Linked DNA regions of Homo sapiens: region 1 is linked to region 2. The links come from fine-mapping of genetic effects on plasma protein levels. Region 2 holds a variant in brackets. A gene starts in the other region. All regions are shown on their forward strands.

Region 1 (5,381 bases), not on the chromosome of region 2:
AAATATTAAGTAACTTAGTATGTGCTGGAATTTGTATATGAAAACCCACATTGGTTTGAATCTAAAGCTCATCCAAAGCACTAAGCTATGCTGTCCCCATGATCTAGGTTATGTGCCTAGATCATGTAAATGTTCACCCTATAAATTTCCAACTGGAAAAAGACTAAGCAATTTCCAATATAAACAGTCCACTTTCCCAAAAGTGAAACATTTCTGATGACTGATCTGCACAATGTGTTTTCATCTCAATAAGAAGAGTAAGAAAATGGAAAGTATTGCATATGTTAAATAGCTTGATTTAACCTCATTGTATACATATATCAAAACATCATGTCATATACTACAAATATGAAGTTACTTGTCAATCAAAAAAAAAAAGAAGAAAAGAGAAGAACAGGCCTAGAACAGAAATGAAGCCTATGGGAGCATAAAGGTGCAACAGTGTAGACCAACTGCGTGAGCTCCAAACAAAGTCTCCAAAAGAATCTTTTGAAATCTTTGGGCAAGTCTCTCAATCTCTCTGAATCACAATTGCCTCATCCACCAGAACAGATAACAGTGCAGGCCCCTACTTCACTTTGGAATGGGCATGACACTTTTCTAGCCTTATTTCCCATACTTGGTCATACCCTCACATCAGGTCTTTATTCCATGTAAAAGATTTGCTGGGAAGGCCTTTGAGGGGCCTCTTCATCTTTCCACAGAGCTTTCCATTAAACAGAGGCAAAATTAAACCATGTCCTTTTTTTCCATGGCACTCTGAACCCTTCTCATCATGTGATCTATTAGAATTACTTATCTATGTATCTGGCCCACACCACTGAGCTCCTGGTGAACCTATACTGCTCCCCTTCATAAAATATAAAGCAGGTGGCTCACACAAAATACACTCTCAACAAATGTGGAATAGAAGGCATGATTCATGATTATTTCATTCTACTAAATGCATGATATTATTTGGACTACGCACTGTGATATACCATTAAAAATAAGTGATTTTTAAAAAAAAATTTCCAGAATTAGGACAGATGCACTGTGACTCACGTTATTATTATTATTATTATTATTATTATTATTATTATTATTATTTTGAGTCGGAGTCTTGCTCTATCACCCATGATGGAGTACAGTGGCATGACCTTGGCTCACTGCAACGTCTGCCTCCCGGGTTCAAGGGAGTCTCCTGCCTCAGCCCACCCGAGTAGCTGGGACTACAGGCGCGCGCCATCACGCCCAGCTAATTTCCTTTGTATTTTTAGTAAAGATGGGGTTTTGCCATCTTGGCCAGGCTGCTCTCGAACTCCTGACCTCAGGTGATCCACCCGCCTCGGCTTCCCAAAGTGCTGGGATTACAGGCATGAGCCACTGCGCCTGGCCTGACCTACATTCTTAAAAGGGCTGTGTTACTGAAACAATCAGGAAAGAATCATATCTCCAGGTGAAGGAAAATGAACAATGCTTTTTCTCTTCCTCAAGTCAAGAAAAATCCAGTTCTTTAGTTGACAGTACATCCAAGTTAGTCAAATTAAGTAGCTTCCTGTCTCCGCTTCATTTTATCTACTTGTCATGATTAAATATCCTACTAGGTTGTAAGTGGGCCCTCAACGCTGACCTTTTTATCTTGGGATTTGAGAGGCACAGTCTAGAGCACTACTCTTCACCTAAATGCCAGTATGCCACCAGTAGAAATTATCCTTTAGGCTAAATATTGTTCTTCCCAGAAACCCTCTTTTCAAGGATCAGTTTAAACCTAAATTCATCAGAGAGGAAAACAGCAGATTTCAGAGTCAGATGAAGAATTCATATCCACCTGGCTTTGAACATTATCGGCTGTGAGATGGTGTAGGTAAAATTTTAAGTGCATAATTTGGCAATAATAAATCATCAATAAATATTAATGTTGATGAGGCCCCTGGGCCACATAAAGAAATAGGGAGTGAGGGGATTTGAAATTCTGGCCACTTCACAGAAATGGGTGGGAAGGGGCTCTTGATTGAGATAGAAGCCCATCCTACATGAAGCAATTCCTCATTGAGTTCTCTCGTCCTTTATCCTTGTTGGAAACATCAGGCAAAGTCACTCTTGGTCTTAAAGTACTTTTACATCTAAATACGGAACTCTTCTATTTAATCCCTGTCTGTTGTAGATGTTAAGTATACAAAGAGGTTGTCAGAGTTTGAAACATCTGGACTTCTGTCAGGTACTAGCTCCGGAACTCCAGTCCTGCTCGCCCTCAAAAACGGCTTGCAGCTAGAGGTTTAAGTTCCACTTCCTCTCAGCGAATCCTTACGCACGAGGGAGGCGGGGCGTGTGTCCTCCGCGCGTGGTTTTCGGGTAGCACCTTCTGGGGCGCCGCCTGCCTCCACCCACGGCCGGGCCTTGACGTCATGGGCTGCGGCCCCCTCCCGGCTGAGCCTATAAAGCGGCAGGTGCGCGCCGCCCTACAGACGTTCGCACACCTGGGTGCCAGCGCCCCAGAGGTCCCGGGACAGCCCGAGGCGCCGCGCCCGCCGCCCCGAGCTCCCCAAGCCTTCGAGAGCGGCGCACACTCCCGGTCTCCACTCGCTCTTCCAACACCCGCTCGTTTTGGCGGCAGCTCGTGTCCCAGAGACCGAGTTGCCCCAGAGACCGAGACGCCGCCGCTGCGAAGGACCAATGAGAGCCCCGCTGCTACCGCCGGCGCCGGTGGTGCTGTCGCTCTTGATACTCGGCTCAGGTGAGGATTCACCGGCGCTGAACTGCTGGGCTCTCCTCCCATGGCAGGTTTTGCCTCTTGAGTTTGGCTCTTGCTTCTCTAAAAATCGCCCTTTAGTTCCCCCGACCCTGCGCCGCAGGAGGTGATCACTGTAGCTCCCTCCCTAGGAGGAAAAGAGAAGGGCAGATGTCTCAAACGTCCAGGACAAGGTGTCCCAGAGAATCGCTGTACTTTTTCTTTAGTTCAGCTGAGAAGACGGGAGAGATCATTTGAACCTAACCCTTCGTTTCACAGATTAAAAGATTAAAAAGACCAAGATCTAGAGAGGTGAAGTGATTTCCGCAGATATTGGACCCAGCAGTGTTTGCTGCCTCCTGCCTAATTCTCCATCTCTGTCTAGTGATTTCTTCTTTACCTTCCTAGAGGGACTTAGAGTATCCCGGCGAGAGGTTAAAAGCACCACTCTGATGCTGTTTTATTGAGACCTAAGAAAAAGCAAGATAAAGCAGTGGCTTAACTCTGGGCCCCAAATCTTACTTAGTACTCAGTTTATTGTCTATGTAGTAATAATAATAATGATAATGAAAAATGACAATAATAATCGATATAATTAACCACTGTTTATATTATTTTAAAAGATTATCTTTTAAAAATATCTTTTAAAAATATGAACACATCTTTTAAAAATATGAACACATCTTTTAAAAATATCTTTTAAAAATATGAACACATCTGAAGAAAATCTGATATTTGTATCTAAAACCTACCGAAATAGGCCAGGATGGCATTCTAGCAAAAAAAGAAATGCATTTGGAATGTGAAGTGATGGGAATTTTTAGACATTACCCATCAAGTAATTGTATTAGATTAATTTGCCAATTTGGCGGGATTTTTTTGATGTGGAAATTAATGTGGATTATCTGTGGAAAAGAAAAACTTCAGAAAAGCACTTCTGTAATTGGGACAGCTGAATTTGCTTGCTGGCAAAAATGTAAAGTTTCTTTCATAGAAATGACTCAATCACAAACAATAGCACATGTGCAATAACTGCTTTGATGTCAAAAGATAAACTTTTCTACCTAACACAGCTGACTCGAAAGGCACCCTACTTTACCTTTTCTTTTCTTCCTTTATTCCCTCCCCTGCAGGCCATTATGCTGCTGGATTGGACCTCAATGACACCTACTCTGGGAAGCGTGAACCATTTTCTGGGGACCACAGTGCTGATGGATTTGAGGTTACCTCAAGAAGTGAGATGTCTTCAGGGAGTGAGATTTCCCCTGTGAGTGAAATGCCTTCTAGTAGTGAACCGTCCTCGGGAGCCGACTATGACTACTCAGAAGAGTATGATAACGAACCACAAATACCTGGCTATATTGTCGATGATTCAGTCAGAGGTGAGTAGGGGATAAAGCAAAAATATGGCCTGTGAGATGTGGGTTTATATGAGCAAAGCTGCTTCAGAAGTAAAGCTGCTCCCCAGATTTTCTAGTGGCTTTATTGTATATCTGTTGGATAGCCCCTAGGTAAACTGTGACAAAAAGAACCATAATGTGGGCACATCCTATATGGCCAGAGTGATCATAAATGGTGTATGTCTCATTTTTAAACCTAATCTTCACAATGACTTTAAGTAGGAATTGTTATCCTCATTTTACAGATGTGATAACTGAAGCCGAAAAAGGTTTTGCTCTAGGTTCTACAGGTGACAAGCAGATGAGCTAGAATTAGAGCTCCAGTCTGTTTGATTCTATGCAGAAGAGACACTAAGCTCTTTCCCACTATGCTACATGACCCCCATTCTGAGAGACAAATTTAGACATTAACCATTCCTATCTACTTTGTATCTTAGCTTTTGTATCCCCTTCCCCAACACCACCCTTCCCCAGATAACTGCATTTTAACACAAATAAGGGGACAAGGAAGTAATGGGACAGGAGGCATTAGACTTTAGCGTTTAAGTACTAGGTGATGAGAAGCTGATGGAATAATAATAATAATGCCATCTGGAAATATTAAAGAAGGGTGAATATACTTAGATTTTGTATTGCTAAAATCACTCTTTAACCCCAAATCCCATTTGTTAGTTATATAACCCATGGTTTCTTTCACTTTCCTGTTATCTCATATTTTAAAAAGGCCCTTTGCTTGGAGTGAAAGTACCAAAGTAAGAGAGAAATATTGCATACTTTGGAGTCTGAAGGAAGAAGAAGTTAACAGTAAATAAGATCTAAATATCCTAAGAGCATCCACTACAGAGGCAGGGCAAGATGGTTTCAGAGCTGTTGAAGGCCTTTTCTGTCCTGACTTGAGTTTCCCTGGCTTCTCCCCCTCTTGTCTGGTTCTCAGAACTGGTGAAGGGACATCAAGTGGTACCAGAGGGACAGTGACTTGGGTGAGTGGGAAGTGAGAAAACCTTTAGCGAACACTCCACTTAATTCCCTTCCTTCTCAAAGTGTGCTTTTCTGTGAGGTGGGTAAGGGGTTCATTTGTGCTTATTTTTGAAGGCATGAGATTAGACCCATCAAGGTGTCTAGAAACTGTTCTCTTAAACATGTTTCAAGTTGTTAACACTTCAGAAGGCCAAGTAAATGATTAGTAGTACAAATGATGACTAGTGCTCAAAATTGCAATGCATTGTGAAATAGAGTGAAAATGTTGGCTGAACACCTTCGAAAGGCTAAGT
Region 2 (5,346 bases):
ATGGTGGTGATGGTGGTGAGGAGGTGGGAGTCACAATGGTGGTGGTGTTGATGGTGGTGATGGTGGTGAGGAGGTGGGAGTCACAGTGGTGGTGGTGATGAGGGTGGTGATGGTGATGAGGAGGTGGGAGTCACAACGTTGGTGGTGATGATGGTGTTACTGGTGGTGACGAGGTGGGAGTCACAATGGTGGTGGTGGTGATGGTGGTGAGGAGGTGGGAGTCACAGTGGTGGTGGTGTTGATGGTGGTGATGGTGGTGAGGAGGTGGGAGTCACAGTGGTGGTGGTGTTGATGGTGGTGATGGTGGTGAGGAGGTGAGAGTCACAATGGTAGTGGCGATGATGGTGTTGGTGGTGAGGAGGTGGAAGTCACGGTGGTGGCGATGATGGTGGTGAGGACGTGGGAGTAACAACAGTGGCAGTGACGGTGATTGAGACATGATGATGATTTGTCAACTTTCTAGGAAAACAATCATATAATCTCCAACAGTGATATCTTAATATCTTTTCCAAAAGTATCAGATCATATTATAAGGGCCAAGTTTCCAGAATAATATCAGACATAATGACAGTGGACATCAGAGCTTGGCATCTAAAGGTAATGGGAATAGCTCTAATGTCTCAGCGTGAAAAACAACATTTGCTATTAGTCTGAGATACTAATTATCTAGTTAAGGAAGTACTCACCTATACCTAGTTTTTAACTGTTTTTTAAAATCTGGAATTGATTTTGAATTTTAACAAATATTTCCCTGGGAACAATGTAAGATTCTTCATATTTTCGCCTTTGGGTATACCAACATGCCAGCTCTGTTGGCCACTTTGTGAGCTCGATGAAGCATGGTATAAAAGATGCTTTGCTAGTGTTTCACGTAATCTATTTCTATAAGCAATTTTGGAGCTAAGCCTCTGAAACAGAATTATATTATCTGTATAGAATAAATGTTTTATCTTCCCCCTTTTCTTTCTTCTGGAATAGATGTGCATCAGTATCTCTGCATCAATATCTCTATATCAGTATCTCTGTGTCAGTGAGCATATGTTGCTGGGCTTAGGGGAGGTCCAGAAAGTGATTGGGTTTTGGCATTTTCAATACACTTACTTTGTATAAGAAATAGTTTGCCAAATATAGAAAGAGGGGATTTAGTCAAGATTTAAATTAAAAATGTTAGTGGTCATTTTTCTAATGTCTTTCTATTTTTTCCCAGGTCCTAATAAATCTTCACTGTCTGACTTTAGTCTCCCACTAAAACTGCATTTCCTTTCTACAATTTCAATTTCTCCCTTTGCTTCAAATAAAGTCCTGACACTATTCATTTGACATATGGAATTTTATAAATATTTTCTTTAGTATGTGTGATTACATTCCTGATTCTGAGCCTTTTTAGATGAGTATATAGTTTGATATAATCTTGTTATTGCCACCTGTGTCTTCTCCCAAAGCCATTAATTATATAGGAATTACACGATAGAAATGGGTTTAATTTTTAAAATACGGCCAAGTGTTGATGAGAGGGAAAATTTTTTTAATTTCTTTCACTGAGTATTTATGACGTGCACAACATTCCTGAATATATTGTCTCTCTCATTTCTCAGATGGGATGTATTGCCTTCTCCATTTCTATTGTTAAAGAAACACTTACAGGGGTTTCTTTAACAACTTGTGAACAGCAGCATCAGAGCCCAGACTACAGCATAAGCAGCTGCTGATTCCAAAAGCCCTACCTTCCAACCGGGCAGGTGCAGCCACCCAGACGAGGGGGAGGAACCCTGGAGGAATAGCTATTTCTTTTTTTTTTTTGTCGAGACGGAGTCTTGTTCTGTCACCCTGGCTGGAGTGCAGTGCCGTGATCTTGGCTCACTGCAACCTCCACCTCCCAGGTTCAAGCAATTCTCCTGCTTCAGCCTCCCGAGTAGCTGGGATTACAGACACCTGCCACCACGCCTGGCTAATTTTTGTATTTTTAGTACAGACAGGGTTTCACCATGTTGGCCAGGCTTGTCTTGATCTCCTGACAAGTGATCCACACACCTTGGCCTCCCAAAGTGCTGAGATTACAGGCGTGAGCCACTGCGCCCAGCAGGAATATCTATTTTTAAATGGAACTGTGTTTTCATAGTACACGGTGAGGAGAAAGTTGCTTTGAAATCTTTATCCTAATAAACCAAATAATATGAAAATTTGCCTATTTTAATTATATGTAACAAAGTTTAGTTACTGCTATAATTGCAAATATGTATAAATTCCTTACCAAAAAAAAAAGAATCAAGTGGG[A/G]GCCAGAGAATAATTTTTCTGACAGAATTAAATAACATGCTATAGCTGCTTGAGTTCATACTCAATAGTCATTTCTGCAGAGTTACCGAGGGCCTCATCAGCGTCAGCAGGAGCCCCTCGCCTTCTGACGCTCTCACATCCTTCTCTCCTGCAGCCCCGTCCTGCCACTGTCCTTGTCCAGCTTCTCTTCAAGGGTCAACTGGTCTACCTTTCCCTACAAGTCTGTCACAGCTTCTTGTTAGCAATCCCTATGGTTGCCCAAAAGCATTTTCAGAGCCTGCATAAGACTGCATCTTGTAGAAAATTTGCAGTTTCAATCTGCCCTCCCTCTGCCGGGTGTTCCCATTGTATTGCATTCAGCAGGCAGGGAGAGACTGCTATTAGGTCTGTTCCTGAGTGACTGCTTTCTGTCTCAGACTGTTTGGTGTCTGTAGGAGGTAGTGGGGTGGGCAGTAACGAGGTCTCCTGTATATTCCACCCCTACGAAGCCTGTGTGTTTGGTTTATGAACTAAGCTCAAAAGCACCACAGGGGTAAGACTGCAGTACATGACACCATGGAAAAGAGGGAGCACCCAGACCCCCAAATTAAGAAGAGCAGTGTAGAGAACAGAGACCTGGAGAGCAGAGATAGAAACTGTTAGGATCAGATTATAGTGTTACACCAGGGCTCCCCAGGCCTCTCACATATTGAAATGTACTTGTCCATCTTTCTCCAGGCCAGGAAATGAGAGTCTCAAAGCCATGTTATTCTGCCTTTTTAAACTATCATCCTGTAATCAAAGTAATGATGGCAGCGTGTCCCACCAGAGCGGGAGCCCAGCTGCTCAGGAGTCATGCTTAGGATGGATCCCTTCTCTTCTGCCGTCAGAGTTTCAGCTGGGTTGGGGTGGATGCAGCCACCTCCATGCCTGGCCTTCTGCATCTGTGATCATCACGGCCTCCTCCTGCCACTGAGCCTCATGCCTTCACGTGTCTGTTCCCCCCGCTTTTCCTTTCTGCCACCCCTGCACGTGGGCCGCCAGGTTCCCAAGAGTATCCTACCCATTTCCTTCCTTCCACTCCCTTTGCCAGTGCCTCTCACCCCAACTAGTAGCTAACCATCACCCCCAGGACTGACCTCTTCCTCCTCGCTGCCAGATGATTGTTCAAAGCACAGAATTTGTCAGAAACCTGCAGGGACTCCATGCTGCCAGCCTTCTCCGTAATTAGCATGGCCCCAGTCCATGCTTCTAGCCTTGGTTCCTTCTGCCCCTCTGTTTGAAATTCTAGAGCCAGCTGTGGGACAATTATCTGTGTCAAAAGCCAGATGTGAAAACATCTCAATAACAAACTGGCTGCTTTGTTCAATGCTAGAACAACGCCTGTCACAGAGTAGAAACTCAAAAATATTTGCTGAGTGAATGAACAAATGAATAAATGCATAATAAATAATTAACCACCAATCCAACATCCAGACACATAGTGATTTTAATTATTTAAGAGTAGTTTAGCATATATTGCTTTATGATTTAATTAAAAATCTCCAAAATATATGCCAAAGAAGTAGAATGAGAAAAATGTATATTTCTCTTTCACTTCCTACAGATGCACTGGGCCAGGTCTTGAAGGCTGTCCAACGAATGGGTAAGTGTTCACAGCTCTGTGTCACATGGACCTCGTCAAGAATGACCACACTGCTGTGGGTGAAGATGCTTTCCTGCATTTCTGACTGTCCTCTGTCCTGATCAAGTTTCTATGGCTCTGGGCCAGCCTACCCTCAGCCAGGGTTTCTGCAGAGACTGCCCAGCTGGTTCCACGTGGCTCCACGTGCCAACTTTGTCCTCAGTGGAGGGAAAGTTGGACACACAGTGCTGGGGCTGCTCCCTGCTCCGCCGTTGCTCGATGCATGGCCTGCCTCTGAATTCCTTGGTTCCACTGGTTTTGCTGGGTCCTTCTGTGCCTCTAGCTCCTCTTTTTTTCTGTCCACTTACCCCATTGGTCCCATCACAAGCCTGTGTGTGAGTGGCCTTTCTGTTCGATGACAACCTCCAGCATAGGGGAGTGTTTCTCCTTGCTTTCTTTCCCAGACACACTGCCCAGCAAAGGCAAAAGGGCTTCCTTCAACATCAGCTCTGGCCAGTTTGCCAGAGCAAAGCCCTGAGAAAAGCAAGGTTGAAAAGTCTTATTCAAACTCACCAGGAAAGAGTGGTGTTACTCTCGATGGCGTCTAGCCAGGAATCATGGAATTATACACCGAGCACCTGTTTGCCATTTTGGATGTTTCCAAACATGAACCAAACTTCCAGGCCCCTCTGCCATCTCTGGTAACATTTACAAAGTCCCTTCCTCACCACTGCCCTTCCTTCATTTTGGCATGCTCCTCCGCCCCCGAGTTGACAGCCATAGCTCTCTCTCCTGCCACCAGTGTCACATGATCGAGGAAGAAGGCAACTTCAAAAAGACTGGGTCCCCTTCCACTCCCATCTCTTCAGTGAGCTGCTAGGACACCCAGCAGAACTTCCCCACTCCACACTGCAATCTCAGGGATCTTAGTCACGGGGCTTTCCACCATGTCTCCACCTGGAAACCAGTCATGGCCATTCCTTCTTACATCTGCTCTTTTCCATCTTTTTCTTCTCCTCCTGTTCACCCGCCCTTACTCTTGTGGCGCCCTATGGATATGCGCTCCATAGCAAATGATTCTTTATATCTTACGGTATTCTAGTGAGCTGGCACATGTGGCTTCTGGTTTCCTCTCTCTGGAACTAGACATGACCTCTGTGGGAGGGAGGATTAAATGCACCCTACAGTCTGAGGCTGCATGATGACATCACTCATCACAATGATGCTTTCTATGTCTGAATCCTATTCCTTTATAACCCCTTTCAAGCTCGTTCAGAGAGTATTTCACACAATCCATGTGCTCATCTTAAAAGCCAAGGACCCAGAGGAGTCTCAGCATTGCCAAAAAGTCCCTTCACCCAGCCTGGCCAGAGGCAGTGCCTGGTCCATGTGTATGGACTATGGCACTTCAATTGCATGGAAATACTCTTGGAATGAACAAAATACCAATCCATGAAAAAGCATTATTG

Which allele goes with the higher level. Alleles are on the strand shown, and positions count from the first base shown. The strength of an association depends on the size of the effect and on how common the allele is.
As copies of A replace G in region 2, the plasma level of the protein whose gene starts at base 2,446 in region 1 goes down (weak association).

Evidence for each region. A credible set is the group of variants that fine-mapping cannot tell apart. PIP is the posterior inclusion probability: the model's chance that the variant is causal. Protein levels are from antibody-based Olink assays in UK Biobank. Linkage for the fine-mapping came from a reference panel and not from the study's own genotypes, which makes the PIPs less certain.
Region 1: it holds the start of AREG, and the variant in region 2 is the best candidate, but not a certain one, in a credible set for the plasma level of the AREG protein (UK Biobank, PIP 0.53).

What each region holds. Positions count from the first base shown.
Region 1 is chr4:74,442,691-74,448,071 of GRCh38, forward strand. AREG (amphiregulin) reads left to right here and starts at 2,446. Exons shown (of 6, transcript NM_001657.4): 1 at 2,446-2,716; 2 at 3,844-4,092. The coding sequence starts at 2,656. RefSeq lists a silencer at 3,713-3,913.
Region 2 is chr7:55,167,316-55,172,661 of GRCh38, forward strand. It overlaps EGFR (epidermal growth factor receptor), which reads left to right. Exons shown (of 28, transcript NM_005228.5): 16 at 3,860-3,898. Among named protein-coding and RNA genes, the nearest start is that of EGFR-AS1, 19 kb to the right of the region's middle. The variant A/G (reference allele first, on the strand shown) is at 2,275.